Linked DNA regions of Homo sapiens. The protein of the gene in region 1 purifies or fractionates together with the protein of each later gene. This does not show direct contact. Each region holds a gene or a part of one and is shown in the gene's direction. Other genes may lie near its edges. The genes, in order: SLC16A8, PIGG, ATP13A3, CCDC127, ABCD3, PTDSS2 and PIGN.

What was found.
Region 2: the proteins of SLC16A8 (region 1) and PIGG purify together in Homo sapiens (affinity purification with mass spectrometry; one large-scale study listed by BioGRID and IntAct). This does not show direct contact.
Region 3: the proteins of SLC16A8 (region 1) and ATP13A3 purify together in Homo sapiens (affinity purification with mass spectrometry; one large-scale study listed by BioGRID and IntAct). This does not show direct contact.
Region 4: the proteins of SLC16A8 (region 1) and CCDC127 purify together in Homo sapiens (affinity purification with mass spectrometry; one large-scale study listed by BioGRID and IntAct). This does not show direct contact.
Region 5: the proteins of SLC16A8 (region 1) and ABCD3 purify together in Homo sapiens (affinity purification with mass spectrometry; one large-scale study listed by BioGRID and IntAct). This does not show direct contact.
Region 6: the proteins of SLC16A8 (region 1) and PTDSS2 purify together in Homo sapiens (affinity purification with mass spectrometry; one large-scale study listed by BioGRID and IntAct). This does not show direct contact.
Region 7: the proteins of SLC16A8 (region 1) and PIGN purify together in Homo sapiens (affinity purification with mass spectrometry; one large-scale study listed by BioGRID and IntAct). This does not show direct contact.

What each region holds. Positions count from the first base shown.
Region 1 is NC_000022.11:38,080,784-38,085,480, reverse strand, and holds the start of SLC16A8 (monocarboxylate transporter 3), read left to right. Parts: upstream 1-1,296; 5' UTR 1,297-1,493; intron 1,494-2,119; 5' UTR 2,120-2,439; intron 2,440-2,443; exon of another isoform or gene 2,444-2,599; 5' UTR 2,600-2,607; coding exon 2,608-2,821; intron 2,822-3,448; coding exon 3,449-3,592; intron 3,593-3,801; coding exon 3,802-4,641; intron 4,642-4,697. Other genes in the region: BAIAP2L2 (BAR/IMD domain-containing adapter protein 2-like 2), read left to right, coding at 106-181.
Region 2 is NC_000004.12:526,256-530,356, forward strand, and holds part of PIGG (GPI ethanolamine phosphate transferase 2, catalytic subunit), read left to right. Parts: intron 1-783; coding exon 784-975; coding exon of another isoform or gene 976-979; exon of another isoform or gene 980-1,286; intron 1,287-4,101.
Region 3 is NC_000003.12:194,484,029-194,488,666, reverse strand, and holds the start of ATP13A3 (polyamine-transporting ATPase 13A3), read left to right. Parts: upstream 1-1,664; 5' UTR 1,665-2,101; intron 2,102-2,119; exon of another isoform or gene 2,120-2,251; intron 2,252-2,430; exon of another isoform or gene 2,431-2,713; intron 2,714-2,831; 5' UTR 2,832-2,873; intron 2,874-4,638. UniProt on the Homo sapiens protein: ATP-driven pump involved in endocytosis-dependent polyamine transport. Uses ATP as an energy source to transfer polyamine precursor putrescine from the endosomal compartment to the cytosol.
Region 4 is NC_000005.10:198,160-201,153, reverse strand, and holds part of CCDC127 (coiled-coil domain-containing protein 127), read left to right. Parts: 3' UTR 1-2,994.
Region 5 is NC_000001.11:94,421,281-94,425,381, forward strand, and holds part of ABCD3 (ATP-binding cassette sub-family D member 3), read left to right. Parts: intron 1-4,101. UniProt on the Homo sapiens protein: Broad substrate specificity ATP-dependent transporter of the ATP-binding cassette (ABC) family that catalyzes the transport of long-chain fatty acids (LCFA)-CoA, dicarboxylic acids-CoA, long-branched-chain fatty acids-CoA and bile acids from the cytosol to the peroxisome lumen for beta-oxydation.
Region 6 is NC_000011.10:484,187-488,287, forward strand, and holds part of PTDSS2 (phosphatidylserine synthase 2), read left to right. Parts: intron 1-2,704; coding exon of another isoform or gene 2,705-2,752; coding exon 2,753-2,887; intron 2,888-3,233; coding exon 3,234-3,284; intron 3,285-4,012; coding exon 4,013-4,101. UniProt on the Homo sapiens protein: Catalyzes a base-exchange reaction in which the polar head group of phosphatidylethanolamine (PE) or phosphatidylcholine (PC) is replaced by L-serine. Catalyzes the conversion of phosphatatidylethanolamine and does not act on phosphatidylcholine.
Region 7 is NC_000018.10:62,040,462-62,044,455, reverse strand, and holds the end of PIGN (GPI ethanolamine phosphate transferase 1), read left to right. Parts: 3' UTR 1-3,292; downstream 3,293-3,994.

The sequences.
Region 1 (4,697 bases):
GGGGCAGGAGGCAGGACCCAGCTCAGTTGCCCAGCTGCCTTCCTGAGCCATGGCCAGGTGGGGATCATCTGCCCTTCTCACCCCATTCTCTCTCTCCTCCTACAGGGGCACAAATCCTTTTGCCACTGTCAAGCTTCGTCCCACCATCACCAATGACCGCTCAGCACCCCTCATCCGCTGAGGCGGGGTCCGAGGTCGTACCCCACAGTGCACCTGCCCAGGGGCTGTTCAGAGCTGGCAATGGCAGCGACAGCAGCAACAGCAGCAGATCCAAGAAGCGGGTCCCTGAGACGGGGGGTGGCTGCCCTCCCCAGACCACCCCGGCAGCCTGAGCAGCTCCAAAGCACTGGCTTGGGGTCCGAGACCTTCAAAGTAAAGCAGGCGGAATGGGGGGACAGGACAATTTCTCCCCCTCCAGGGGCTCCAGGACTCTCCCTGGGGGGCCCACCTCTTGCCCCCTAACCTCTTTCCCCCTTTTCTGCCCCCGTGGGGAGGAGCCCCTTGTACCTGCTCCGTGCCCAACACATGCCCTCTCTGTACATCTTTTGTAAATGATGAGAAATAAAGGAAGTGGACGCAAAGTGATGCGGCAGCAGGACTGGTGGTGTCTTATTTGGGGGACAGGGCAGGGGGTGAGGGATAGAGACTCCCCCATTGGAGAATGGGGTCTAGGGGGTACTGAGGTCCTGGCTGTTCCCCGGGAAGCCATCTCACTCCCAGCCCCTTGTTTGTTTGTTTGGAGAACTCTTTAGGGCTGCCCCAAAGCCCTCGCGCTGCAGCCCCCATCTCCACCTGCTCTCATTTCGACCTGTGGGTTTCCTAGGAAGTAGCGGCTGCTCGGGTCAGGGGAGAGGTGGCAGTGGCCAAGGGCTGGGACCACCAGCAAGCTGCCCTCAGGCGGCCTGGACACAGCACCCTTTGTTTTGGCCCCTCCCCCCCCCACATTCCCAGGCACAGGCGTGGATTAGCTTCATTCTAGAGAAAGCTGCCAGCCCCTCCTGGAATGTGGCCTGGGGCGGGGGGTTGGGGCGGGGGCAGATGAGGCACTGAGGTGATTAGAACCGTTGGGGTCTCTTCAGGGCAGGGCTGTGCCCCCAGCACCAGACTAGGACCCCCTGGGCAAGGTCTCTGTGTCTACCACCCCAGGCTCCAGGAGGCACAGGGATTCTCTTCCTCCCTCCTGGACTGGCTTGGGACAGGGAGCCCACCGCCGAGGCCCAGCCTGGCCTGGGGCTCCCAGTCTCTTCTCCCCTCCTGGACAAAAGCCTCTTAGCAGGGGTGAGGTGTGGTGGGGGCACACACTCTAAGCTCCAGGCCTGGGGCAGGGAGCGTCAGGCGGGAGTCGGCCAGAGGCTCAGCCCAGGCTGGTGGGAAGCTGGGGTGTCTGGCAGCCCCCATCCGGGTAAGCTTCACCGGGAGCTGCGGCGGCGGCCCCTCCCTGCAGGCCTCAGGAGATGTGAGGCTGGACCCCCAAACCCACGAGGCAGGCTCAGGTGAGTGTGATGTGAGGGCTGCCTGGGATCACCCTCCTGTCTCCACCTTCAAGTGGCTGCCCCTGTGACAAGAGGACAACAGGCAGGAAAAGCCACAACCTGGTCCTAGTGGAGGAGGGGCAGAGTCCCGGATACCCTGGGGGTGGTGGCACTGCCCAGTGCCAGGAGGGACACTCCAGGCAGGAGGGCAGGAGGCTATCCCCAGCCCCCGGCTCCTGGTGCACCTGTCTCTGAGTACACCCTCCTCATCTGTTATGGGGGCGCTTGTAACTGCTGTGAGGGCCCCGGGTGGAGCCCCAGGAATGAGACAGGCTTTGGAGCCATTCTTTTCATATAGAGGGTTTGAGGTTTGGAGGGCAGAAGGCCACTCTCTCAGTGCTGCTAAGGTTCCTACCTGTCTGGCAGAAGCCAGAGACCTGACTCCTCTCCCGCAAGATTCCCAGCTGGCCTCGGGGTGATCAATCACCCATCTTACATCGGAGGAAAGGGAGGTTGGGAGAGGGGAGGCGACCGGCCCAAGTCAGGGAGGGAATCCATGGCTGAGCTGAGATGCATGGGAACTCAGCTCCCCTGGCTGATATCTGTTGAAAGTGGCTTTTGTCCCCTTAATGTTCTAATGACAATAGTCATTTGTGATCACTGAGAAACATTAGGAACATGGCGGAAGGCTAAAGAGGAAAATCACGCACAGCGGCCCTTTGCAGCCGGCATCTGCCCCTCTGCTGTTTGTTCTGTTGTCCCGAGACCCTCACGCGTACGGGGCGACTTTGGTGCTGGACGCCCACCTCCAGGCACATACCTGCTCCACTTCCCGACGCCTTCCACCTGAGGCCCTGAGGGGCCAGCAGTTGTCCTTCAGAGGGAGCCTGCAGAGGTGCAGAGTCAGGTGGGACCCGTCGTCCTCCCCTCGTCCTTCAGCGCCCTTTGCAGGAGAAGGAGACTTGGGGTGAGAGTCCTACCTCCGTTTCCCCTTTTGGTTCCCAGACCTGAGCCACCCTCACGTGGGTAGCCCTGTGCCTCAGTTTCCCCATGCTTCGTCTCCATCCCCCTCCTTCTCTAGGCTGCTGGCCCAGCCCCTCCCTCTTGTCCCCGCCCCCTCCCAACAGAGGCAGCGATGGGCGCTGGCGGCCCCCGGCGGGGCGAGGGCCCCCCAGACGGCGGCTGGGGCTGGGTGGTGCTGGGCGCCTGCTTTGTGGTCACCGGCTTCGCCTACGGCTTCCCCAAAGCCGTGAGCGTCTTCTTCCGCGCGCTCATGCGCGACTTCGACGCCGGCTACAGCGACACGGCCTGGGTGTCCTCCATCATGCTAGCCATGCTCTACGGCACGGGTCAGTGTCCCCGCCCGGCCCTCCGCCTCCCCGGGACCCCTGGGATCCGGAACCAGGAGACACCCGAGCCCCTGAGCATCCCCCTGACCCTCGGGGTGGCCCCCGAAGTCCCTTCCTGCCTGTGGGAACCCTGGCACCAGAAAGAGGGGAAGAGAGGGCGGGAGGGAGACAGCGGCCAGAGGCGGGGCCGGCCCAGGGGGCTGCCCTGCGAGCTCAGAGGGCCCCTTCTAAGACCACACCCGCCCATTGTAGAGGCAGGAAAGCTGAGAGCCACAGAAGCACTCCCCCTCCCCGCAGCCCTGACCTGTAGGTGGGGGCTTGCTGGAGTTCCCATCCTGGGAGGCGGGGCTGCGGAGGAATCCCAGTCTGTGCCAGGGCGGGACTTGGAGGCTGTGAAGGTTAAAGGGGTGCGGAAGCCCCCGCTCCGCTTGGGGTTTGGGTTCGCAGGATGGGGTGCTCTGGGCCTTGCCCTCGCAGGATGCTGTCTCTTTGGCCTGTCCCCTCCAAGCTGTGTGACCTTGGCCAGACACTGCCCTCCTCTCTGTGTCCCTGAGCCGGAGGTGACCTTATTCCTTAGAGGACTCAAGCCATCCCGGGACCCGGGTGGTGACCCTGCCCTGCCCACAGGCCCCGTGTCCAGCATCCTCGTGACCCGCTTTGGCTGTCGCCCGGTGATGCTGGCGGGTGGGCTGCTGGCTTCCGCGGGCATGATCCTAGCTTCCTTTGCCACGCGCCTCCTGGAGCTCTACCTGACCGCTGGGGTGCTCACAGGTGAGGGCCCCCTGGTCTCCTCTCCGCTGGGTTGGGGGTCGGGGGTTCTTGCTGCAAGATCTGTCCTCGGTTTCCCTATGAGGGACAGTCTTCGAAGTCCCTCGGCTGGGTTCCCGGATCTGCTGGGTTCCCGGGCCTGGCCCCTCCCTCCTGTGGGGGCCAGGGAGGGGCTCTCCGGGGACCCCGGCACAGCACCGCCTCGCCCGCAGGCCTGGGCCTGGCCCTCAACTTCCAGCCGTCGCTCATCATGCTGGGGCTGTACTTCGAGCGGCGGCGGCCTCTGGCCAACGGGCTGGCGGCGGCGGGCAGCCCCGTGTTCCTGTCCGCGCTGTCGCCGCTCGGCCAGCAGCTGCTGGAGCGCTTCGGCTGGCGCGGCGGCTTCCTGCTGCTCGGCGGGCTCCTGCTGCACTGCTGCGCCTGCGGGGCTGTCATGAGGCCGCCGCCCGGGCCGGGCCCGCGACCGCGCAGGGACAGCGCCGGCGACCGCGCCGGGGACGCTCCGGGCGAGGCGGAGGCTGACGGTGCGGGGCTGCAGCTGCGCGAGGCATCCCCCAGGGTCCGGCCCCGCCGGCGCCTGCTGGACTTGGCAGTGTGCACCGACCGCGCCTTCGCCGTGTACGCCGTCACCAAGTTCCTGATGGCGCTCGGGCTCTTCGTCCCCGCCATCCTGCTGGTGAACTACGCCAAGGACGCGGGCGTGCCCGACACCGACGCCGCCTTCCTGCTGTCCATCGTGGGCTTCGTGGACATCGTGGCGCGCCCGGCGTGCGGCGCCCTGGCGGGCCTGGCGCGTCTGCGGCCGCACGTCCCGTATCTGTTCAGCCTGGCCCTGCTGGCCAATGGGCTCACAGACCTGAGCAGCGCACGCGCGCGCTCCTACGGCGCCCTCGTCGCCTTCTGCGTCGCCTTCGGCCTCTCCTACGGCATGGTGGGCGCGCTGCAGTTCGAGGTGCTCATGGCGGCTGTGGGCGCGCCCCGCTTCCCCAGTGCGCTGGGCCTGGTGTTGCTCGTGGAGGCCGCGGCTGTGCTCATCGGACCGCCCTCTGCCGGTGCGCCCCGAAGGAAGAGGGGGTGGCGAGCCTAGTGCCCCTTAGACCCAGGGAAG
Region 2 (4,101 bases), on another chromosome or scaffold:
ACCCCTTCCCGGGGTGAGGCCCAGGCCCCCGTGTGGCCCCAGTCTCCCCGTCATCCTGGGAGGCTTTGAAGCGGGAGCTGCAGTGAAAGAAACAGAAGGGAGCCCGGCCTTCCCCACCCTCACACAGGCCAGGACTGGCTGGTGCTGCACCACCGCATCGCGGTCGGGACTCCGGGCTCTGCCCTCTGACAGGCCGTCAACCTCTGCACCATCTCCTCACCCAGGAGCGGGTGACAGCAGACCCTGTGAGGCCATGTGGGTCTAGGGACGTATCATGCGTTACTGAGTTAATGGGAGGAGGCAGGAGAGGGGAGGTGAGCTGGTAGGTGCAGGGCTGACCCCGAGAGGGTACCAGGGAACAAGAGGACGGTTTCTATTTGTCACCGCCTGGCCTCTGGGCATCCACATCTGATGGTGGGAGACCCGTTTGTGAATGAGAAGTGAGAGTTCAAGTTAACTGTCTTTTTTTTTTTTTTTTAATGAGTTCTCACCATGTGGCCCAGACTGGTCTCAAATTCCTGGCCTCAAGCGATCCTTCCGCATTGGCATCCTAAAGTGCTGGGATTGCTGGTGTGAGCCACCACACCCCACTGAGGTTGACCATCTTTTATTTGTTACACTTTAAGAACCTTTGTTTGAAAATAAAAATCAACAATTTCATGTAATCTTTGGTTTTTGGGAAAATCAGCTATTTTTTAATACCGTTCTTTGAAAGCCACTTGGTGTAGATTGATCTTGTCGCTGTTTGTTTACGTAATGCTGGCATTTTCCATCTCATTTCAGCTCTGACCACAAAGCCGAGCTCTCTGTCCTGGCTGCCCTCTCCCTCCTCGTAGTTTTTGTGCTGGTGCAGAGGGGGTGCTCCCCTGTGTCCAAGGCTGCCCTGGCGCTGGGGCTGCTGGGCGTCTACTGCTACCGGGCGGCCATCGGGAGTGTCCGGTTCCCGTGGCGGCCGGACAGCAAGGACATTTCCAAGTAAGTGCGTGGCGGACACGGGGTGCATAGAGCCACTTTACTGTTTGAAGAACTGGCGGACACGGGGCGCGTGGAACCACTTCACTGTTTGATGAACTGAGAAGACCAAGCCAGTCTTCAGAGCATTGGAGTTTGGTGTTTGTGAATTGTGATTGTGTCAACAGCTACTGGAGTGTAACTAAGAAAACCTCAACCAGCTGCGTTGTTAGCACTTTTTATGTTTTATGTGTTACTTTTAGGAGACAAATCACTTGGAAGTAAGATTTTTTAAATTTAAAATAAAACCTTCAGGGTGTGTGATGGGACAGACAGATGAGCGTGAATCGGTTTCTAAGTTAGTGGCAGCACGTGATGGCCAGGGTTCTGTTTTCCTGGTCAGGGTGTAATTGGTGATGAGGATGATGAGTGGATGTTTCCCAGCAGCTGGGAAATGAAGCTTGCTGGAAAATCAGACCGTCCTTGTAATTTATAACGAGCCCCCGTAAGGGGCCAGGAGCTCCTGTTGATTGGCGGGAGGGCTCAGTCAGGAGGACCATTTTATTTTCTTTGTGTCAAAGCAACTGTGTTTCTGATTTTAATTGTGTTGTGGTGGTGAACACAGGAGTGGGATGAGCAGAGGCCGTTCTGGAGGGCAGCTTGTAACATGTGGGTGACCCTCTATTTAAATTTAAATAGCTGTTTCCATTTATCTCAAGAATATAAGCAGAGGCAGGAGCCTGGGATGGGACAGAGGCATGTCCACTGAAGTGTCCTTCACAAAGTGTCCTTGCAAAAAGGAACAACCAGGGTAATTATCCAGCAGCAATACAGTGATCCTCCCAGTGAGGTCGGTGCTCTGACAGTGACCGTCCCAGTGAGGTCGGTGCTCTGATAGTGACCCTCTCAGTGAGGTCGGTGCTCTGCAGAGGGGTCTTCTGGCTGTTAGGCAGCCTATTTTCACAGAACAGAGAAGCATGTTGTGGAACAGGTATGACCCCAGCTTACTAATTGTGTACCTGTTTTTTTTTTCATACTTATATGAAAGACTACATACTTAAAATACTGGTGATTATATTTAGGACCTGAAATCATAAGATTGTGGTCTTGCTTTTTACTTATTTTTGTATCTTAGCGATGTCTAGAGTTAATAAGTGTTGCTTTTCTAATCACAGCAAGTCAAGGTGACTGCTGAGGGCTGTGGCCAGCCTGAGGGGTGGCCGTGGGGCTCCGGGGGCACCCCTGGAAGTACTTCCTGGCTGAGTGGGGAGTAAGGGGTGGGAGTTAGGGTGACCTGAGGCCTGGCTGAGGCAGTGAGAGTGTAGCAGGCCGTCATACGGGGCCGGGGCCTGGGGCAGAGAGGATGCTGACGTGCAGGTACCAGCGGTGTTCTGTGGAGATGTCTCAAAGGCTGTTGACTTTGGAATCTGAGACTTAGGGCTCATCCAAATGGATGTTACATTTGCGGGTGTGTGTTTAAGGTGCAGCGTATGAATAAATTCATTTCCTCACAGATCTATACACTGAATTTCAGCATCACTCATCTCAAGACCTTGGCCCTCTTCCCTTTCCTGGCCTGCTTCCTGCAGCATGTAATTTGCTAGTGTCCAGAACTAGCCAGTGTGCCTTTTCTTTCCACACGCACTGCCTGGTTCACCTTCTTCCTGTAAAGTGCCTCCGTCCTTTGTCCCCATCTGTCCCGATCGTAAATAGGTCCTGGCTACAGAGGCATCCTGGCTCTAGATCATTGTAACAGCTGCCGCTCTCCTGTCAGTCCCCCGGGCCCTGCCATCCACTGAGAGTCTGAAATCCTTTGCACTCAGTTCCTGACTGTCCTCCACTCAGAAGCCCAGGGATGGCTGGAGTGGAGGTGGAAGCGGGGTGGGCCTGGTTGAGCAGGATCAGACTCTGCCCGGCCAGGGGAGGAGGAGGAGGACCCACCAAAGGCCCTGGATGATGCCCCTCCTGCTCATCACCCTGCCTGCCCTAGCATCCTCTCGACACAGAAACCAGTCCCTTTTCTTCTATGAAACTTCTCCAGTGATTGTGACCTTTGCTGATTTCTCCCTTCTTTGAATGCAGATGGGCCTATAATTCACTCTTAACTTAGCACACACCTTGGCCTGTGGGGGTTGCCAGGTACCTGACCCCAGCTCCTCAGCCAGGATGTGGGCCCCTCCTGGCAGCCACACTGCCAGGCACATGGTATACAGTGCTCAGGCTGTTTGAACTAAACTGATCAAAGTTTACTTTCTTAATGTAAAAGCTTTCTAAGAAAATCTAATATAGGAAAATTCAGTTTTCACAATATTATGATATTAAAAATTACGATTATTTTAAATGATCAGATTTGTAGGCTGTGTGAAGCATTTCATTTACAAAATTTATTTAAAATATTATGTTTTAGGAACATACGTGTTTTGTAAGATGAAATTTTTTGGTAATTGTATCCTTTACAGATAACTATCATAAGAGTACTTAATTTTACTGAGCTTACTGTGTGCCAAGCACTCCCTGCATTCCCTTGCTTAATTCCTAGGATGACTTTGTGAAGTGTAGAACCATTTTCTCTCCATTTCACAAATAGCAAAGCTGAGGGTCAGAAGTCTTGATTGACACGCCCGAGTAGGAGAGCTAGTGAGCAGAGCAGCAGGGCTCGGACTGAGCAGAGCTCTGCCTTTTCTCAGAGCCCGCGGGTTGGATGACTGCACCACTGCACGCGTGTGTGCCTGTGAATGTGCAGGTGCTTATTTACCTATAACTGCATGTATGTGTACCTGTAAATGTGCAAATCCTTCTTTAAATCTGCTCAGTTGTGCAATGAACATTTATGAACTTACAGCAGTTTCTTAGAGTTGACTCTTATACTAGTGCGTTGGGTTTTTTTTAATTAACTGCAAAGCAGGCGGGCCACGAGGGCACCGCTTGGGTCGTGCCACCAGATGAGCCAAATGAGCAAGATCTCCCCGAAGCCAGCCCCAGCGGAAGAGTCTGCACGAGGACACACCTGTGGGCCTGTGGCGGCGGCTCCTCAGGGCTGCTGTGCGGAGGAGACATGCCCACTGCCATGACAGGACCTGGGGGGTAGGGAGGGTGCCGCGGCTCCTTTAGTCAGCAGTGCTGGACATTTACTGGTTCCCTGGGTAGATA
Region 3 (4,638 bases), on another chromosome or scaffold:
AAGGTGAGAGTCATCCCAAGGTGTCAAATGTAGCAGAAAGAACCAGAGAGATAAGGCCTGAGGAATGCCTGCAAGGTTTGGCAAAATGAAAGTCATGAGTTGCTCTTGCCTGAGCAAGGTGAAGGGTTAGAGTTGGGGAGGAGAAGCCAGAATGCCAAGTGTTGAGAAATGAGGAAGCAGAGGCAGCCAGGGAAGACCATTGTTTGAGGTCCGCATGAAACACTTGGAAGCTAGTTGGAGGGAGCACTTCAGGAGGAGGTTGGCTTGATAATTTTGTTTTTAGGACTTGGAGAGGCCAACCTGTTTAAAGGCTGAGAGGAAGCAGCAAGGCAAGGAAGCCTGGGAGGTGGGGGAGGAAGATTTTAGGGCCAGACCCCACCCAGACCGTTTTCTTGTGGTTTGCCCAACACTACCACACACCCCTTAATCTCATTTAATCATTTCAACACCACGAGGTTTGAAACAAACGGTGAGGTATGAAACAAAACGGTGAGGCCAGGGATTGGGAAGAGAAAGCTGTGGTTCCATCTCGGTCCAGCGTGCTGTCCACGCCAAGAGGCGGGCAGAAATGCTAGCCTCACACAATCTAGGGGACCAGGGGTGGCTGTGGCGCCCTCCTGCCCGCAGGAGGTGTTATCAGTGTCGCGGACTCGGGCGGTGTGCTGCCCCTGGTGAGATGTCATCACGTGCGTGGACCAGGGGTGGCGGCCCTGGTAAGTGTCCAGGGACTAAGGGCTCCCTGCTCTCCAGGTGTGGTGGACGGGGTCCGCATGCATGCCGTCCTCTTCTCTAAGACGCTAAGGCGGCTGAGTTCTGTAAGTAGCGGCAAGAAGAACAGTCACGGAGCGGGCCGGGCACAAAGGGCGCAGGCCAGGTGGCCCCAGGCGGAAAGATGGCCGCAGCCAGAGGCTGCAGGTGGCCGGGCGCGCTCCCTGCGCGCGTCGCGGAGAGGACGCAGCGAAAATCAAACCCGCGATTTGGAAATCCGGCTGCGGCCCTACCCCGAGATAAGTCTTCTGCGGAGGGAAGTATTTAATTTGCATCCAGGACGGTCGGAAGAGGCGCCTTCCCGTCGGAGGCGAGGCGCGGGCGCGTGGGAGCTTTCTCGTGTGCGCTCCTCCCTGTCCTCCGCCTGCGGCCGGGGCGCAGAGTCCGTGGTCATATGAGAATGACAGTTTTTTGTCTGTTTGTTTTGGCGGGGGCGAGGGTGGCTAAAGGAATGAAAGAGCCTTGCATTAGGAGCTGGGCTCTGGTTTCCTCTCCACCATTCTAGCACAAGCTTCCTCCATGACCATGACTCTGGGCAACGTCTGTCTAGTCACTGAGCCTCAGTTTCCCTGTTCATAAAATGGGAGATTGGACTATGATGTTGTCATAGCCCAAAGGGGATGAAGTGGGATTTGCCGTTCCATTTCATCCCACCAGAAAAGCCGCCCTCCATTAGCCACCCCGGGCTGACACCCAGCGTTTTTGGACGGCCTCGCCTCCCCTTACCTGCCTCTTTCTTTCTTTTGCCCGTTCGAGGGTGGCAAAGGCGATGGGTGGGCGGGGCCTATAAATCGCCCCGCCCCTCCCCGCCCCTTCCCCGCCTCCTGACGTCGCCCGCGCCCCTCCGCCCTCCGCGCGGGGATGAAGCCACCACGTGACCTCACATCCGGCGCGGGAGTCCTGAGCCCGCGCGCGCTCCCCCGCCTGCCTGCCGGCTCTCCCCGCAGCGTGATCGGGCGCCGCCGCGGAGGGGAGGGGGGTTCTCTACGTCGCTGGCGGCGGGGGGGCCGTTTCGGAGTGCAGACCGCCCCCCTCCCCTGCCCACCTCCCGCCGCCCTCCCTTGTTCTCGCCCTGCCGGCTGCACGCCGCCGCCGCGGGCGCGGAGGAGGAGGAGAGCGCGGACGTCCCAGGGCCGGCCCGGCCCCGCCGCGGCGCCTCCTTCCCTCACCCTGAGCCGCAGCGCGCGGCGCCGGCCGAGGGCGATGGGGCTGGGCTGAGGCGAGGCGGCGGCGGCGACAGCGGCGGCCGGGTCCCCCGCGGTCCCTGGGGCTGGTCCGGCCGCGAGGGAGGCCGCGGAGGAGGCGGCGCGGCGGCGGCCAGTGAGCGGCCCCGGTGAGCGGGGCGAGGGGCGGGTGGGCAGCGGCGCCGGGGGAGGTCGAGGAGGCGAATGGTGGTGTCGGGGCGGCGGGTACCGGGCGAGGTCGCGGCCAGCCTTCTCGGGCCGGAGTTGGGCATCGCGGGGACGGGGAGTGTCGGGGGCAGGTGAGGCCAGGGCAGGAGCCCACGCGGTGGGTGCGAAGGCCTGGGGGGGACGCGCCGCCTGCCGGGGGCGAGCGTGGGGGCCGGGCGCTTGGTGGTTGGTAGTCAGAGCTTTCGGAAAGTCCTGTGGGAGGTGGAGGTCCTGTGGGCAGAGGCGTAGGGGTGCTGGCAGGGCCCTCGATGAGTCTGTGCGGGACCCTAGCTCGTCCTCAGCCGTGGAGTATGGAGCTGCTTGCCATCTCCGCATTTCACAGATAAAAGGAGTGAGTCCCGTGGAGGAAAAGTGACTTCTGACTTGCCTGAGGCCTCCCACTCGGACTCTGTGGCAGTGAGGACTAGAAAAACCCAGGGCCCTTTGCCCTAGCAGTGCTCTCGTGGCCACTCTCGCTATGGCCTTTCTGTCTCTCCATTCCCTTCACAGAGTCAGGTTCTGGTGGAAGTATGACCTCTGGCTTTTTTGGGGAGGTGAGGGGTAGGGATGAAGGGGGAGGGAATCGGGTTGGGATTGGCAGGAACTCAGCTGGGGGCTTCCCGGTGTGGAAGAAGCTTTGTGACAGGTGTTTATTGTTTCCTCTTCCCATAGATCTGACAGACATCCCTGAATCTTGGTGTTTGGACATAGGAGGTATGAATCACTCACATAATTAGCCGCTTTTAATCATCAGTGTCTTAGAGCTATATTTAGTGGTTATATTAGTGCAAAATGAATGGGTGTGGAGTCGTACACCTAGAAACAGACTTGTGTTCCTCTATACGATTCTAACTAAATGAGTAGAACATACCTGGGTATGTCATGGCTACTTTAGATCTATGAGGCAGGAAGTTAGAATTTAAGGAATCTAAGAAATGCAGGGACTTGAAAGATTATTGCAAAATAAAGCCTTTAAAAAGTATCGTTGTTAAAATGAAAGTGTTTCGATTTGATTCCTTTGAAGGGTGAGTACGTAATGAACAGTGCTCTATCTTTGGTTAGAGCTCAGCCTCTTTACCAAGGTACATGTATTAATTTTGTTTCACTGGAATATATGTGACATTATTTTCTCTAGAGGTTTGTTGCTTTGCTTAATAGACTACAGTTGCCAAAAATCAATGTGTGTGGGCATCTCATCCTGGTTTGCAACCCCTTTAAGGCAAATCAGTGCTTGGAAGTTGTTCGAAGTAGTAAACCTATTATTAATGATTGTTGTAGAACATAACTTTTGCTGGTATCTTTGATTTGCATTATCCTACCATTAGATCAGGCAGAGAGTGAAATAATTGAGATTTTGAGCCTTGTTAGAACAACAATGCCTGGCTTTGGTCAGGGGATTGGGTAGGAAAAGTGACACTATTTGGTTGCTTTAAATTTTTTTTTTTTTTTTTGAGATGGCATCTTGCTCTGTTGCCCAGGCTGGAGTGCAGTGGTGTGAACTCGGCTCACTGTAACTTCTGCCTCCTGGGTTTCAGCGATTCTCCTGTCGCAGCCTCCTAAGTAGCTGGGATTTCAGGTGTGTGCCACCACGCCCAGCTAATTTTTTGTATTTTTAGTAGAGACAGGGTTTCACCACGTTGGCCAGGCTGGTCGTGAACTACTGACTTCAGGTGATCTTCCTGCCTAGGCCTCCCAAAGTGCTGGTATTACAGGCGCTAGCCACCGAGCTTGGCGGTTGATACTTACATAGTTAGTTTAGGTCACCAAATATACAACACACAGAATCCGCTTTGGATAAACCACATTATCGAGCTCATTTTGAAATCCTATTTCTGTCTTCAAGATTTTCGAGATTATAAACCACTTTGTTGTCATTCACAAGTATAAAGTTCTTATTTCCAACATCACTGAGACTGAGAAAAAAGACAGAATAAAGATAAAGTTCCATAGGGCGTCCCCATCACTGCTTATTCTCACTGAGTTTGACCATTGAGTAGGTTGTATATCCATAGTAATATGATATAGTGCCTATGTCCTAAGATTACTATTTATCTTAGGAATAAAGCATATTCATATTCTAAAACCTCATATTCACAGTAGTTACAAAACCACCACGTTATACAAGCATAGTTTGATTCAATATATGGAATGGAAGAAGGAAAGAAACCATTATGTGCCAGGAAAAGTGCTCCTTTCTTTACATATGGTCTCAACTAATCCTCAACACTTTCAGGTAACAATATTCTTCTTTGTTAAAAAAAAAATTAAAGAAGTTAAGGAGCTTACAGTATAAGCGACTTTGAAGACAGACAGAAACCTAGCTCTGTGTTAATGTGCTTAACACAGAGGTTTCTGTCTCTGGGTTTATAAGGTTAGTTGTATGTGACTAGGCAACATAACATCTCTGAACCTCAGATTCTGGTGATAAATCAGATATGTCATCTTAATAGGTGTCACACACTAGATCACCTTCTTTTAG
Region 4 (2,994 bases), on another chromosome or scaffold:
CCGTGCGATGTTGGGAGGAGCCAGGGTGTTTGGGGGGGCAGCTGCCCTAGACACTGGCTGGCTGTGATGGGGGGCAGCCTGCTGTGTAGACACTGGCTGGCTGTGATGGGGGGCAGCCTGCTGTGTAGACACTGGCTGGCTGTGATGGGGGCAGCCTGCTGTGTAGACGCTGGCTGTGATGGGGGCAGCCTGCTGTGTAGACGCTGGCTGGCTGTGATGGGGGCAGCCTGCTGTGTAGACGCTGGCTAGCTGTGATGGGGGCAGCCTGCTGTGTAGACGCTGGCTGGCTGTGATGGGGGCAGCCTGCTGTGTAGAAAGTGCTGGGCTTGCTCCGTCTGCCTTGACTTGTGTGAGTAACTGCGCTGGGTTTTATAGGTTGAGGCTGAAAAGGCTCCTCTTTCTATGCTGGGTTTGACGAAACAGTTGCTGTATTTCTCTATTAATTTAGGATTCTGTTTGCAAGCAGCAGAGATGGATTTGTGCTAGCCTAGAAAGTTAAAGAGGGATTTAAGGCTGTCTCGTGAAACTTCAGGTCAAGAATGGAGAACACAGGTTAGATGTCAGAGAAGAACCAGAAAGACAAATAAGGGACTCTCAGGGGCCTCGGAGTACTTGTCACTCTGTGTCATATCTCTGCATAGCCGCGCCAATCCCCAAACCAGCTTCTCTGGCCACACGGTGGGACAGGGCGGTTCCCACAGCTCCTGAGCCTGCCCCCTGCCTGGCCTGCTCCAGCGGGCGGCCGAGTTAGGGAAGCGCTGGGCTCCACCATACCGCGGTGTTCTAAAGGAGTGGGAACAATGAAGATCAGGGTTGCAGAGCCTGTGGCCTTTGCTAGCTTCATGGGAAATCTTGAAAAGAGAAAACGAAGGGCTTCAGTAAGCCACCCATGGACAGCAGGCATGCGGTGGAAGGCGGAGGGCTTCTGTGGCAGCTTCGCAGGTCTCTCATCTGCTGCAGACCCCCTGACAGGCTGAGGGTCTTGCTGTCGGGTAGCGGGACCAGATGAGCCTGAATGTGGCTCTGCGGCTCACAGGACAAGTGTACCTTGAGAGCTGCTGCCGCCGCCTGGATGTTTGCTGGGTGAGCTCCAGATTCACGGGAGCCCTTTGTGCCAGCATGGCCGCCCCAACCCCATGGGGAAAGCAGATCTCCCTCACCTGGGAATCTGGCAGAGACCTCAGGCAGTGCCCCATCTTTCATGACCTGCCTGGTCCAGGTAGAGGAGTCAAGTCCTGCTCCAGGAGCAGGTGCAGGGCCTGGCCTGGGTGCCGAGAGTGGGGTGAGGAGGGAGGAGTAACGAAGAAAGGCAGATGGGCAGAAAGTGCCACATTGGGGCACTCAAGTGGCTCTGTTTAATATTCCAGCAGGGACACTGAGACCGAGCCCATCCCTGCTGGGAGAGCTTCTCGAAGCTGGTTGGTGGCTGACAGGCAGGGAGTGGGGTGCTGGGGCCTCCTCGGGAGGTAGGGGTGCTGGGGCCCTGCTCTTGACAGCACTGTGCCATAGCTCCGAGGTGGCTGCTCCCCATGGGCCAGGGCTGGTGGTGCCAGAAAATGGGATCTGGGCTGAGGGGCTCTGGGCTGGCAGAGGTGGGGCGGGGGGTGACTGGCAGGCATCAAGATGGGGGGGGACAAGCACGGTGCCCCCACCCATGGGGCCGTGTGGGGCTGATGGATAGTGGGACTCCAGCATGCAGCAGATGATGGAGCCTTGCTCAACTCAGAAGAGGAAGAGCAGGAGAGCGCTGGTGGATGAGAGCAACCCTGATGTTCCAGGGCCCTTGGCCACGTCCACCACACAGAGGGGCCACGTCCACACAGAGGGGCCACGTCCACCACACAGAGGGGCCACGTCCACCACACAGGGGCCACTGGGCCTGCGTATATCTCCTTGGCCTGCGAGGGTATCATCATTTCCTGACCTGTGGAACAAGTCATTAAGCCAGGAAGGACTTGAGTTGGAGCCCCTAAAACGGCCCCCACTCCTTGCCAGGATGGTGGACAGGAAGCAGTGCCATGTTCTGAAGGAGCTGCACCAGCCCATGCTGCTGTGGAAGACCCAAGGGAGGCAAAGACGGTGGCTCCAGATGGCGGCCCCCATTGGGACCCTGCTCACATCACCCACTGGCCCTGGAAAGCCGGGGTGGGCCTGGGCAGGTGAACCCTGAGGCTCCGCCAGGAGCAGCCCCAGCTACAGCCACCATGGATGTTTGCTGGGTTGGATCAGCACTCTCACCTGCTGAATGGTTTTGCCTGATTCCCACTAGCTTGTCTTGTGTGGGAGGCCGTGTTTTCTGCGGTAGAGAAGTGCTCTCCATAAAAACCCAGCAGGCGTGCTCCTGGGCCCTGCAGACGCCGGATGTGTGGCCACAGACGCCATGCGACCCAGGACTGGAGTCACAAGATTGGGCGAGGACAAAGACCCAGCGAATGGTGAACGGCCATGCAGGATGGGGCCGATCAGTTCAGTAGGAGCAAGTGCGAGACCTGCACAGGACGGGCGAGGGAGGCGTTGGTCCCCAGCCTCTGCTGGCCTTATCAGAATGGGCTGTTCTTGGGAAGCCCCTGGGTGTCTGTGGAGCTGGAGATGTTGGGAGCTTGTGCCCTCAGCACCGCCCACTGACACCAGTGGGCTCCTGTGTGCCCTGCCCAATCCCAGGCCTCAGGACACCCAGCACCCTGGGCCCTTCTCCACTGCCACAGGCCTTAAGGTTGGTCATCATGCCGCCCAGCGGCTGAGTCTTACAATAAAAATTCAGACACAAAGCAGTGGCAGCCACTCTGTGCTTTAGAGTTAGAAGTAAGTCATTAAAAATGTTGGCCCAGCACCTTCCCTGCCTGTTTCCAAAAGCTGGCCGCAATATCAAATTCATGTCCCTGGACAAGGCTCCAGTAAGGCACTGCCTGCAGTGTGCAGAGAGCACTTAGGTGGTTGCAGAGCAGGCAGAGACGAATGTGGGGAGTGGAAGTCACCATATCTGCCCACTCGGCA
Region 5 (4,101 bases), on another chromosome or scaffold:
CATTTTTTAAACAAATGGATACACTATGTAACACATCCCTATGACAAATTAGAACATTTCTATCCCACCAGAAAGTTCCTTTGTATTCATTCCTGATCAGCTTGTATTCACTCCTGATTCCAGCACTGCTAAGCTAACTTTTTCACCTTAGTTTGCCTAATCTTACCTTTTATTTTATTATTTATGGGGAAAAGAAGAATCTTTTTACTCATGGATAAAGAGGGCTATTTAAAGGAAGTGTCTATTTCAGAATGTTATATTACTGTACTGGGAGCTATAAGATGTGTGTGTGTGTGTGTGTGTGTGTGTGTATTACAAAAATATATGACTTGTTTTCTCAGGGAGCTTACCTTCTTGTTAGGGAAAAGAAACTTAAACACTGATAGCAGAATGAAATGTACAGATAGACATGTCTTAGAAGTTTTGAGAAAGACAAGATTAATGTGTTTGGGAAGGGTTGGGGAAGGCTTCATGAAGGATGTGTGTTAAGCCTAGAAAGGGGGTAGGAGTGGATAACTGGAATAAAGTGACTGTTACAGCATCCTTTATCAGATTTTTGTTGCATTTATGTTAGAAAGAAACTTTGTGGTGCCCTTTCAATCCATCTTCCACTGCCACCAGAGCTCTTTTTAAGAAGCTCAGATATGATCATAATATTCCTTCATTAAAATCATTAATCTACTCTAAAATACAAACTTTCTGTATTCATGGTGTGGTCCTTCCCTACTTTTCCCACTCATCCAACCATAAGTGCTGGGATTACAGGCATGAGCCAACTTGCCCAGCTGATACTTCTTTTTCTTCAAGACTCAGTCAACACTTTGTCTTAGGTGTTTTCTGTCTTTTTCTGATTTCCAAACTGATGTAAGTGTCCTCTGCTTTTATGATACTGTAGGCCAGGGGTCCCCAACCCCCGGGCTGTGGACTGGTACAGGTTGGTGGCCTGTTAGGACCCAGCTGCACAGCCTGTGCAAGCGAGCATTACCACTTGAGCTCCGCCTCCTGTCAGATCAGCAGGGGCATTAGATTCTCATAGGAGCGTGAACCTGTTGTAAACTGCACATGTGAGGGATCTAGGTTGCACACTTCTTATGAGAATCTAATGCCTGATGATGTGAGGCAAAACAGTTTCATCCTGAAACCATCCCCCAACTCAACCCCAATTTGTGGAAAAATCGTGTTCCGCAAAACTGGTCCCTGGTGCCAAAAAGGTTGGAGACTACTGCTCTAGGTATCCCCTACTCTAGCACTTACCATTCTGTATTGTACTAGTTTGTTTTCTTGGCTTTTGCCTACATCAGATCCTGAGTTTCTTGAGGGCATGAACTGAGTCATCTTTAATTCCCTAGTTCGGCTCTGTCATGGGTTAGACAGTGTTTATAGAGAGGATAAATGACATAGGATAGTTGAAGAACTTTTAAGCGTAATTGACAGGCATTTGGAGATGCCTAGTACAAACATGAATAGAAACATTCTTTTTGCAGAAGTAATAGTTGTGTACCTGAGCATATATAACCTGACCTGGGTAGTGGGAAATCAGTGGGCCAATTTTAGAAGGCAGGGAATGGTACCAGTCTGTATAGCCATAGTATTTTATTATCTTTAAAAAACAGAACAGAACAAAGCAGTTTCTTTCGCTTCTTATCAATGCTTGTCAAATAGAGTTCGGATTTCTCATCTTGGATTTCAGAGCCTCCCTCAATCTGGTCTTACTTTACCTGGCTAATCTTATATGCCATTGCCTGCCAATGGGTACTCTCTGTTCCAAATAGGACAGTTTCTACACTGTTCTTTGAACAGGCCACACTCATTTTTGGCTTTGGAGCTTTATTCATGCTGTTACTCATACCTAGAATATCTTTCTATGATATCCCTGTTCTCCAACTCTTGTCATCCTTGAAGGGTTAGGTCAGGGTCACCCTATCCATGAAGTGTTATTTAACTACTCCAGATGATCTAAATGATGATCACCTCTTTTAAAATTTCTGAAGCATGCATTTAAATACCTTTATTGTTTTATCTATTCATTGCTTGACTGGTTATAATCTAGCTAGGTCTACCAAAGTCCACCTGCTTATGGGGTGAGTTTCCTGCTTTTAAAAGCCCCCCTCTGTAAATGGTGGGAACACAGTTTCCTCTCCTAAATATTTCTCAGGAATTTCAGGGAGCTTGTGTTTCTTTTAGTGACATCTTACTTCGCTTCCTTTGGAGCACTTTCTGCTCTATTTTAGAAGGTACTTACATCTTGTCTCTTGAGCCTGTCTCTTTGGCGTCTGCCTTGATTTCTCTAAAGAATCAATCACAAAGCAGATATTTATAGTAGGGCTTTATTGAAAATTTGGGAGGAGTGGTAGGGATTATATCCCAGCATAGTGAACAGCTTAAAATGCTTTTATTTAGAAGTTTTTTGGACATTCCCACTGCTGGAAATTTCTTGACTTTTTTTTTTGTCCTGAGTCTCAGCCCTGTTGCCTGCTGCTGGGCCTTTCTTTACCCATTGGGTGTCCTTATATCTCCAGCTTCTTACTCCCTGCACTACGTTACTGCTAACCCCTCTACAACTTTCCTGCAAACTTCAAAATTCAGCTTTCCTTCCTTAAATCTGCCCCATTCAAATCAAGCTCTAGAAGGGGCTGGCTTCACTTTTCTCAGTTTCACAGGCGCACTGGGTGTTTTGCAAAGTGCAAGCATGAATCATGTGAGGGGCTAGAGCGGCTTGAGACCCTTACAGTTACCCATGAGTAGATGTTATATGGCCCCGTTTGGATCCTCAAAATAAAAAAGAGATGCTTAAGCAACCTTGGATGGAAAAAAAAGCATTGAAGAATTTGCCAGCCAAAGTAGCTGTGTACTGAACCCAACTGAGGCAGATCAGGCCCAGAGCAGTGTTCTGAGAACTGTGTAGCTGTCTGTGGTCTGCTAGGGGGAACTGAGTACAGGTTGTTTAATTAATTATATGTCCCAGTTACTGGCACATTCACATCCTTGGGTAGGCATTCTATTTCAAGGCTTTTGCTCTTGCTGTTTCCCCTGCCTGAAGTGCTCTTTCCTCAGATACTCACATTGCTTACTCTCCCCACTCTTTCAGTCTTTTTTCAGACATCCTTTTAGTGAGACCTTCTATTGCCATTCGATTTATTTTTATTTATTTATTTATTTTGAGACGGGGTCTCACTCTCTCACCCATGCTGGAGTGTAATGGCACCATCTTGGATCATTGCAACCTTTGCCACCCAGGCTCAAACAGTCCTCCTACCTCAGCCTCCCAAGTAGCTAGGACTACAGCCACACGTCACCACACCTGGCTAATATTTTTTGTAGAGACAAGGTCACGTTATGTTGCCCAGGCTGGTCTCGAACTCCTAGGCTCAAGCGATTCTCCCACCTCAGACTCCCAAAGTGCTGGGATTACAGGCAAGAGCCACTGTGCCTGGCCCCTGCCACTCAAAATAGCATCCTGTCTACCTTCCAGACTTTACTTTTCTCCTTAGCACTTATCACTATAAAATATGCTATATATTTTACATATTTATCTTGTCTGTTGTATATGTTTGCAGTATATACATACTGCTAGCATTTAAGTTCCACAAAGGCAAGAATTTTTGTCTATTTTATTCACAGTTATAGCCCCAGTGGCTAGAACTGTGGCTGGAATATATAGTAGACACTCATATTTGTTTGACTCTACAACAACAAATGAGATTCTCATTTTTTGGGGGCTGTGGTTACTATTGTTTTAAATAACACATTCTTTTTGCTACAAATGTAAATGTTGTCTTTAGTATATTTATGAGCTCTTTAGGAGCTGGACCACTTATACCCCCTATATGTACAGGTAAAGCAAGTCTCAGAAACTTAAAAAAATGCTATCATCACCTGCTTTTGACAGTTTAATAGAGTGTAAACATTAAAGACAATTTAAGAAAATTAAAAATCATCCATAATGTTATAACCATAATACAAATATTGTTTTATTTTTGTTTCCTTTTATTCTGTATTTATGTGCATTTTTACAGTTATAACGTACATGTTTTGTTATTTTCATTTAAAGCATACCTCTTTCCTATATTTCCCTGTACATGACCTTCATAACTATACTTT
Region 6 (4,101 bases), on another chromosome or scaffold:
TTCTTTTGCCAAAAGGAATTTCCACGTGGTTCCTGTATTGCTTTCACACACCCTCACGGAGTTCTTGGCTTTTCGTTTTGTTTTTCTGAGGACATCCTGACTTCCTAGCACTGCGGGATGCTCCAGGCTCCTCCTGTCCACTCCCCACCCTGGTCCTGGAATCAGCCCCTTCTCCAAGAGCCTTGGGTCCTTACTGAATATTAGGAACTGAGGCCTGGGTGTTGGGTGGGCTGCGTGGTCCTGGGTGCCATAGCTCACAGAGGACGGGCATGTGTGCACTCACTGTGTGTGCAGGCGTCTGTAAACACAGCCAGTGCAGGGGTGCGTGTGTGCTGTGTGCGCAGGAGAGTGTAAACAGTGCACGGGCGCGTGTGTGCTCACTGCGCAGGCATCTGTAAATAGTGCATGGGCGTGTGTGCTCACTGCGCAGGCATCTGTAAACAGTGCATGGGCATGTGTGCTCACTGTGTGCACAGGCGTCTGTAAACTGCACGGGCGTGTGTGCTGTGTGTGTGCAGGCGAGCGTAAACAGTGCACGGATGCGTGTGCTCACCGTGTGCGCAGGCGAGTGTAAGTGCACGGGTGTGTGTGCTGTGCGCAGGCGAGTGTAAACTGCACGGGCGCGTGTGCTCACCGTGTGCGCAGGCGAGTGTAAACAGTGCACGGGTGCGTGTGCTCACTGTGCGCAGGCGTCTGTAAACAGTGCACGGGCGTGTGTGTGCTCACTGCGCAGGCGAGTGTAAACTGCACGGGCGCGTGTGTGCTCACTGTGTGCGCAGGCGAGCGTAAACTGCACGGGCACGTGTGCTCACTGCGCAGGCGAGCGTAAACAGTGCACGGGCGCGTGTGTGCTCACTGTGTGCGCAGGCGAGTGTAAACTGCACGGGCACGTGTGCTTACTGTGCACAGGCGAGTGTAAACAGTGCACGGGCGCGTGTGCTCACTGTGTGCGCAGGCGAGTGTAAGTGCACGGGCGTGTGTGCTCACTGCGCAGGCGAGTGTAAACTGCACAGGCGCGTGTGTGCTCACTGTGCGCAGGCGAGTGTAAACTGCACGGGCGCGTGTGTGCTCACTGCGCAGGCGAGTTTAAACAGTGCACGGGCGCGTGTGTGCTCACTGTGTGCGCAGGCGAGTGTAAGTGCACGAGCGCGTGTGTGCTCACTGCGCAGGCGTCTGTAAACAGTGCATGGGCATGTGTGCTGTGTGTGTGCAGGCGACCGTAAACAGTGCACGGACGCGTGTGTGCTCACCGTGTGCGCAGGCGAGTGTAAACAGTGCACGGGTGTGTGTGCTCACTGTGCAGGCGAGTGTAAACTGCACAGGCGCGTGTGCTCACCGTGTGCGCAGGCGAGTGTAAACAGTGCACGGGCGCGTGTGCTCACCGTGTGCGCAGGCGTGTAAACTGCACGGGCGCGTGTGCTCACTGCGCAGGCGAGTGTAAACAGTGCACGGGCGCGTGTGTGCTCACTGTGCGCAGGCGAGTTTAAACAGCGCACGGGCGCGTGTGTGCTCACTGCGCAGGCGAGTGTAAACTGCACGGGCGCGTGTGCTCACTGCGCAGGCGAGCGTAAACAGTGCACGGGCGCGCGTGTGCTCACCGTGCGCGCAGGCGAGCGTAAACAGTGCACGGGCGCGCGTGTGCTCACCGTGCGCGCAGGCGAGCGTAAACAGTGCACGGGCGCGCGTGTGCTCACCGTGCGCGCAGGCGAGCGTAAACAGTGCACGGGCGCGCGTGTGCTCACCGTGCGCGCAGGCGAGCGTAAACAGTGCACGGGCGCGCGTGTGCTCACCGTGCGCGCAGGCGAGCGTAAGCAGTGCACGGGCGCGCGTGCTCACCGTGTGCGCAGGCGAGTGTAAACAGTGCACGGGCGTGTGTGTTCACCGTGTGCGCAGGCGAGTGTAAACACAGCTGGTGCCCTGGTGCGTGTGTGCTGTGAGCACAGGTGTCTGTAAATGATGTAAACCTCCCTTGACGTCAGGCCCAAAAGCCTGCCTTGCCCTAAGGTCAAGAGGTGTATCTGGCTGATGCCAGCGTCTGGGTGAGGAAAGAGCAGGTTCCACAAGGGCGACTCCTGTGAGGGTGTTGGCCTGAGCGCGCATGCGGGGAGGGGTCGGGGTGGGGGCGGCGCGCCGCAGTAACTCAGGGCCCCATCCCGCTCCCGTCTGTCCAGCGGTCCTAGACCCCCATGTCCTGAAGCGCACCTGTGCCCACCTGGCCCCGGGGAGCGCAGGTGTGGAGATGGGGTGTCGTGCCTGGGGGTTCCTTCCCCACGCGCTGCCCCACCAGGATTTCCCTGGGGTGGGGAGGGCTGCTGAGACAGGGCGCTGCCCTCCTCCAGGGTGACTGAGATGCAGTTTACAACCATGATCTCCTGGCCGGGCGTGGTGGCTCACGGCTGTAATCCCAGCTCTTTGGGAGGCCGAAGTGGGCGGATCACGAGGTCAGGAGATCAAGACCATCCTGGCTAGCACGGTGAAACCCCGTCTCTACTAAAAATACAAAAAAAAAATACTAGCCGGGCGTGGTGGCGGGCGCCTGTAGTCCCAGCTACTCGGGAGGCTGAGGCAGGAGAATGGCGTGAACCCAGGAGGCGGAGCTTGCAGTGAGCCCAGTTCACGCCACTGCATTCCAGCCTGGGCGACAGAGCGAGACTCCATCTCAAAAAAATAAAATAAATAAACAACCATGATCTCCCGTTTCAAGTTGCCACCACTAACTGTAGCCCCGCTGACGGGGGCACTGGCCTTGCAGACTGTCCAGGACGGCCGGCAGTTTCTAAAGTATGTTGACCCCAAGCTGGGAGTCCCACTGCCAGAGAGAGACTACGGGGGAAACTGCCTCATCTACGACCCAGACAATGAGACTGACCCCTTTCACAACATCTGGGTAAGACGCCGGGGGCCCTGAGGCGAGCCCCTCCCCAGGTGTGGCCCCGTGCCGGACCAGGCGCCATCCACGCTCCTGCCTCGCACCCCTCAGCCCACACTTGGGGTCTCCTGGTGCAGAGATGTGCTGAGGCCCTGTCCGTCTGGATGGTGCTCATGGTGGGCAGGGGGCCCCTGCTCTCTAGGCTGTCGTGGACGTGGTCTCCACAGGCCACGGCAGCACCTGTGAGTCCCTGGCCTTCTTCCCGGGGTCTGGCAGGTGCTGCTCAGGTGTGGGCTGATCTGCCGGTGTGGGGAGTGGGGGTGGCTGTGCCCCAGGGTCAAGGGTCATACCCTGTCGCCCACAGGACAAGTTGGATGGCTTTGTTCCCGCGCACTTTCTTGGCTGGTACCTGAAGGTACGGCACCTCCTCTTCCCGGCCTCCCCGCCCCGGTTCTGAGGCCTGCCGTGGGCTCTGGACCGTTTCTGTCCATGGAGTTGAGCTCAGGGTGCTCTGAGTGTGGTGGGAGGGTGTCGCACTGCAGCCACCCAGAGGTTCGAGAAGCCGTGGGGCTCCCGGACCTCCCAGAAGCCCTGATCCTGGTCGGGTCCCCGCTCCGTCCTCAGGGTCGGGGCGGTGGAAAGAGGCGGCAGGGCAGGAAGTCCCGCCCCTGCCTGGGCTTGGGCACTGCCCCATCCCACTTCTGAGGGACCCTGTGCTACCTATGGGGCTAAGAGCAGTGCCTGCTTGACCCTGCAGCCCACCCTGGCAGAGTTTGGTGTCAGGCCCCGGGCACGGGGATGCTGCCTTGTTTGCTGACAGTCGTACATCGAGGCTGCTGGAGGGGCAGCCACCCACCCCACGCTCACCCTGAGACCTCACTGGGGGCCCTGCCAGTGCTGTCGACTCCAAGAATGCTGCCAGCCGGGGTGGGGGCTGCACGCACCCGTGGGCAGGGCCGGGCGTGGCCTGCGTCCCATACTCTGGCTGCCAGCCGGGTGGGGGCTGCACGCACCCGTGGGCAGGGCCGGGCGTGGCCGGCGTCCCATACTCTGGCTGCCAGCCGGGGTGGGGGCTGCACGCACCCGTGGGCAGGGCCGGGTGTGGCCGGCGTCCCATACTCTGGCTGACCCTGGCGCCCACAGACCCTGATGATCCGAGACTGGTGGATGTGCATGATCATCAGCGTGATGTTCGAGTTCCTGGAGTACAGCCTGGAGCACCAGCTGCCCAA
Region 7 (3,994 bases), on another chromosome or scaffold:
CTAGCTGGACAACTAAGAAGCTATGGTAGCAAACAGTGATGTTGATGGAATGAGAATCATGAACTTTCATATTACCTCAAAGGATTTTTTTATCAGTTTTTTTCACACATCAGAAAAAACTGACTGTATAAACACTTATCACTGACCTTTTTCTATGTGTAGTTTTGCCTTTTATCTTTTCCCAAATTTTTATAAAGAGAAATTAATAAATATTTTATTACAACATTGTAAAGGGTGCTCAGTTTTTTTATCTTTCTTTATTTTGCTCTTTGAGGCATATCTTTTTCTTAATTTTGTCCTTTCAGGTCAGTGTGAGTCTGTAGAATAGGTTGAACTTCCTTCTGACAGTATCATAGAGTTTGTGGAGTTTGTGTTGTGTGCCTGCAGCCACAGGCTCGCCTTGCTGCACCGTAACTGGCCCCTTCAGACTCACATGGGAACAAGCCTTTTCTGTTGCAGTTTCCCAGATATCTTTAAATGTTTTGAAATGTATATTTTTATGTTGCAAAACAGAAAAAAGAAACGAGTTAGGGAAAAAGTATTTCTATTTAAGGTATTTATTTTTTCATTCTACCTATGCCATAGATTTCTGAATCAAGACTTAGGACATTTGCTGATTAACAATGTTTAAATTAGGAATTGTTATAAGAATTAAAATAGGCAGAACAAGTTGTGAAAATATTGAACCAAAAAAAGGCCATGCTATCATCTTAGAGGGCCCATGAATAAACCTTAGAGGGAATCCTAAGGCTTTAGGAAACCGCTGCAGCTTGTCTGTCATTTTCCAATATGTTAATTATTATACTTAGTGTACAGTATTTAGAATACAAAATGCTTTTTTATTTTTTAGGAAAATAATGTTATAAATGATTGTATATTTTCATAGTAATGTCTTTATAATTATTTATTAATGATAGAGCTGAATTAGAAAAGCTCTTCATCCATTATAATATGGTTTCTCATGAAAAACTTATTACAAATTTCAGCCAACTCAGATATTAAGAACATCAGTGTCAATCCTCCTCCCCTCCTGCGACCTTTTTACACTTGTTTTGGTGGACTAGGGGCTCCTTTTCTCCTCCTTTTTGACATATAACTGTGCCATTAAAAACATGATTTCTGATGAAGCTGGCCTAGAGGGAATGAAGGAGATTGCGTGGGTATGGTCTCTAGGACAGGCGTAGCTGTTGCAGGGCCACCCTGTCCTTGGGAGAACCTGGTGAGCTCCCATATTCACACTAGATGCCATCATGTCAGGGGGCTGAAGAGAATGGAGCTAATCAACTCTGTCATTTGGAGAAGACCCCCTTCAGACCAGTTCTGAGAACTCCTTCTTTTAAGAGACCAGAGATAACTTGATCATTTCTCACCTTTTCGTAGTTGTTCTTTTTTATGTTGACATTCCCCTTACTGTTTTTAAAATGCTTCAAAGCATTAATGATTGTTATGCTGTGTGCTTTCAGTACTATGGCAATATCTTTGTAGCATTTTCCCATTTCTGTATAAGCATGGTTTTTTGTTTTTTTTTTTTTCGTTTTTGTTTTGAGACAGGGTCTCACTCTTGTTCAGGCTAGAATGCAGTGGCACCATCTCAGCTCACTGCAACCTCTGCCTCCTGGGCTCAAGTGATCCTGCCACCTCAGCCTCCTGAGTAGCTGAGACTACAGGCACATGCCCCCACACCTAGCTAATTTTAAAATATTTTTTGATGGAGACAGGGTTTCACTATGTTTTCCAGGCAGCAGCATTTTTTTTTGACTGGGATTTCTTTATGATGCTTTGTTATTTAAAAAAAAAATGAGAAGGAAACATTAATAATCAAAATTATCTTTAATTGGCCTCACAGGGCTAAAATCTAGAATTATTATTACTCTTGGGTAAACTCATGAAAAGTACTTAATATTCATTCTATAAAGAAACAAAAAGAACCTTTGAGATGTGTCTCTTATTCATTTCCTTGGGTACACTTAAAACGGGTTACAGTTACTGCTCAACTTTCTACCTTCAGAACTGCAGCATTTATTTGCCACACAGCAGCATTTATCAGAGATTGTCCCTTAGAACATTGGTTCCTTGTAATACAAATAAATGTCATAATAAAAATAGTTTCTTTTTTCTTTCTTTCTTTTTTTTTCAAGACAGACTCTGGCTCTCTCGCCAAGGCTGGAATGCAGTGGCGCAATGTCAGCTCACTGCAAGCTCCGCCTCCCTGGTTCAAGCGATTCTTCTGCCTCAGCCTCCTGAGTAGCTGGGATTACAGGTGCCCACCACCACGTCTGGCTAATTTTCATATTTTTAGTACTGACAAGGTTTCACCATGTTTGTCAGGCTCATCTTGAACTCCTGACCTCAAGCAGTTCACCCGCCTCGGCCTCCCAAAGTGCTGGGATTACAGGCGTGAGCTGCCTCACCCAGCTGAAAAGAGTTTCTTAATTAAATATATTTGAGAAACATCTAGTCAAACCACCTTAAATAGGTATATTTACATTAGTTCTAAGGGAATTTAACTTGTGATGTACGTTGTGAAGGGAGGAAGATAGCATTATGCCAAAAGTTTCCACTAGCTTGACAGCAGACCCTGTCTTAGAGTTTTCTTCCTGATTGGTAAACATAAGAAATGTTTCCAAAGCCGGGCTTGGTGGCTCACCCCTGTAATTCCAGCACTTTGGGAGGCCGAGGTGGGTGGATCACTTGAGGTCAGGAGTTCGAGACCAGTCTGGCCAAGATGGCAAAACCCCATCTCTACTAAACACACACACACACACACACACACACACACACACACACACACACACACACACACACACACACACACCCGGCGGGGTGGTAGGCTCCTGTAATCCTTGCTACTCAGGAGCCTGAGGCATGAGAATTGCTTGAACCTGGGAGGTGGAATTTGCAATGAGCCGAGATGGTGCCACTCTGGGCGACAAAGTGAGACTCTGCCTCAAAAAGAAATGTCTCCATATAATTTTGCACTAAAACCTTAATTTGTCATAGTTTTGAAAATAGGGTGTTGTATGTTGATTGAATTTTTTTCCCTGAGAACTGGAATACCATTTTTACTTTAACCCTTAATGTGAGAAAACTTTACAATTTCCTGCAATTTTTCCTGCCTCTGTATATATTACACCTGTCATCATTTAGTCTTTCATGTGGGAAAGGCCAGTGGTACCAGATTGCATTCGGTTCATCATGGCTCATTGTCTAGCCCTGCTAGAGTATAGACTAAGCCTTCATACCTTATGTTTTATATCTTTTACCTGAAAAATAAATTTGCACCAAATTTCAACTTGTTTTCTTATGATTTGACAGTGTAGAAAGTGATTAGTAGTTAAATTTTTATAATGCTTTGTTATTTAAAAAAACTATGAAAAGAAAACATCAGTTATCAAAATTTCCTTTAATTGGCCTCAAAGGGCTAAAATCTAAAATTATTATTACTCTTGGGTAAACTCATGAAAAGATAAATTCTTTTTACAGAAGAATTTAATTAGCTTGACTGGTATCAAATACCAATTGCATCAAACATCAGTGATTCCATGAATTTTTTAAAGTTGTTTTTACTTTAAGCAGATAATGTTCAGTGAATTTGACTAATGTGATTAACGAAGGGACCAACACAGGTAATTGTCAATCTTACAGACATAAACTGTTACCTCGAATATCCCTGTATTACTTGAAATTCTAGAAATCGTCTGTCAACATTTTAAAAGCTCCTCTCCTTGCTGATGAGAAGTAATATTCTTAAAGTTAGAAACCATACAATTAAATCCTGATTTGCCTGATACATGTTTGCTTATCATGTCCTATCTCTCATGCTATTGTGATTGGTTTTATTTTATTAAAAACTGCTCATAGCATAGCCAGGTGATCTATGTGAACATCAACAGTGATAAGCTGACAGTATGTACCCTGGATACATGATGAGAATGGCACTTTAGCTACACGGACTTCCTCCCCAGTGCTCATAAACCCAGTCTAATCATGAGAA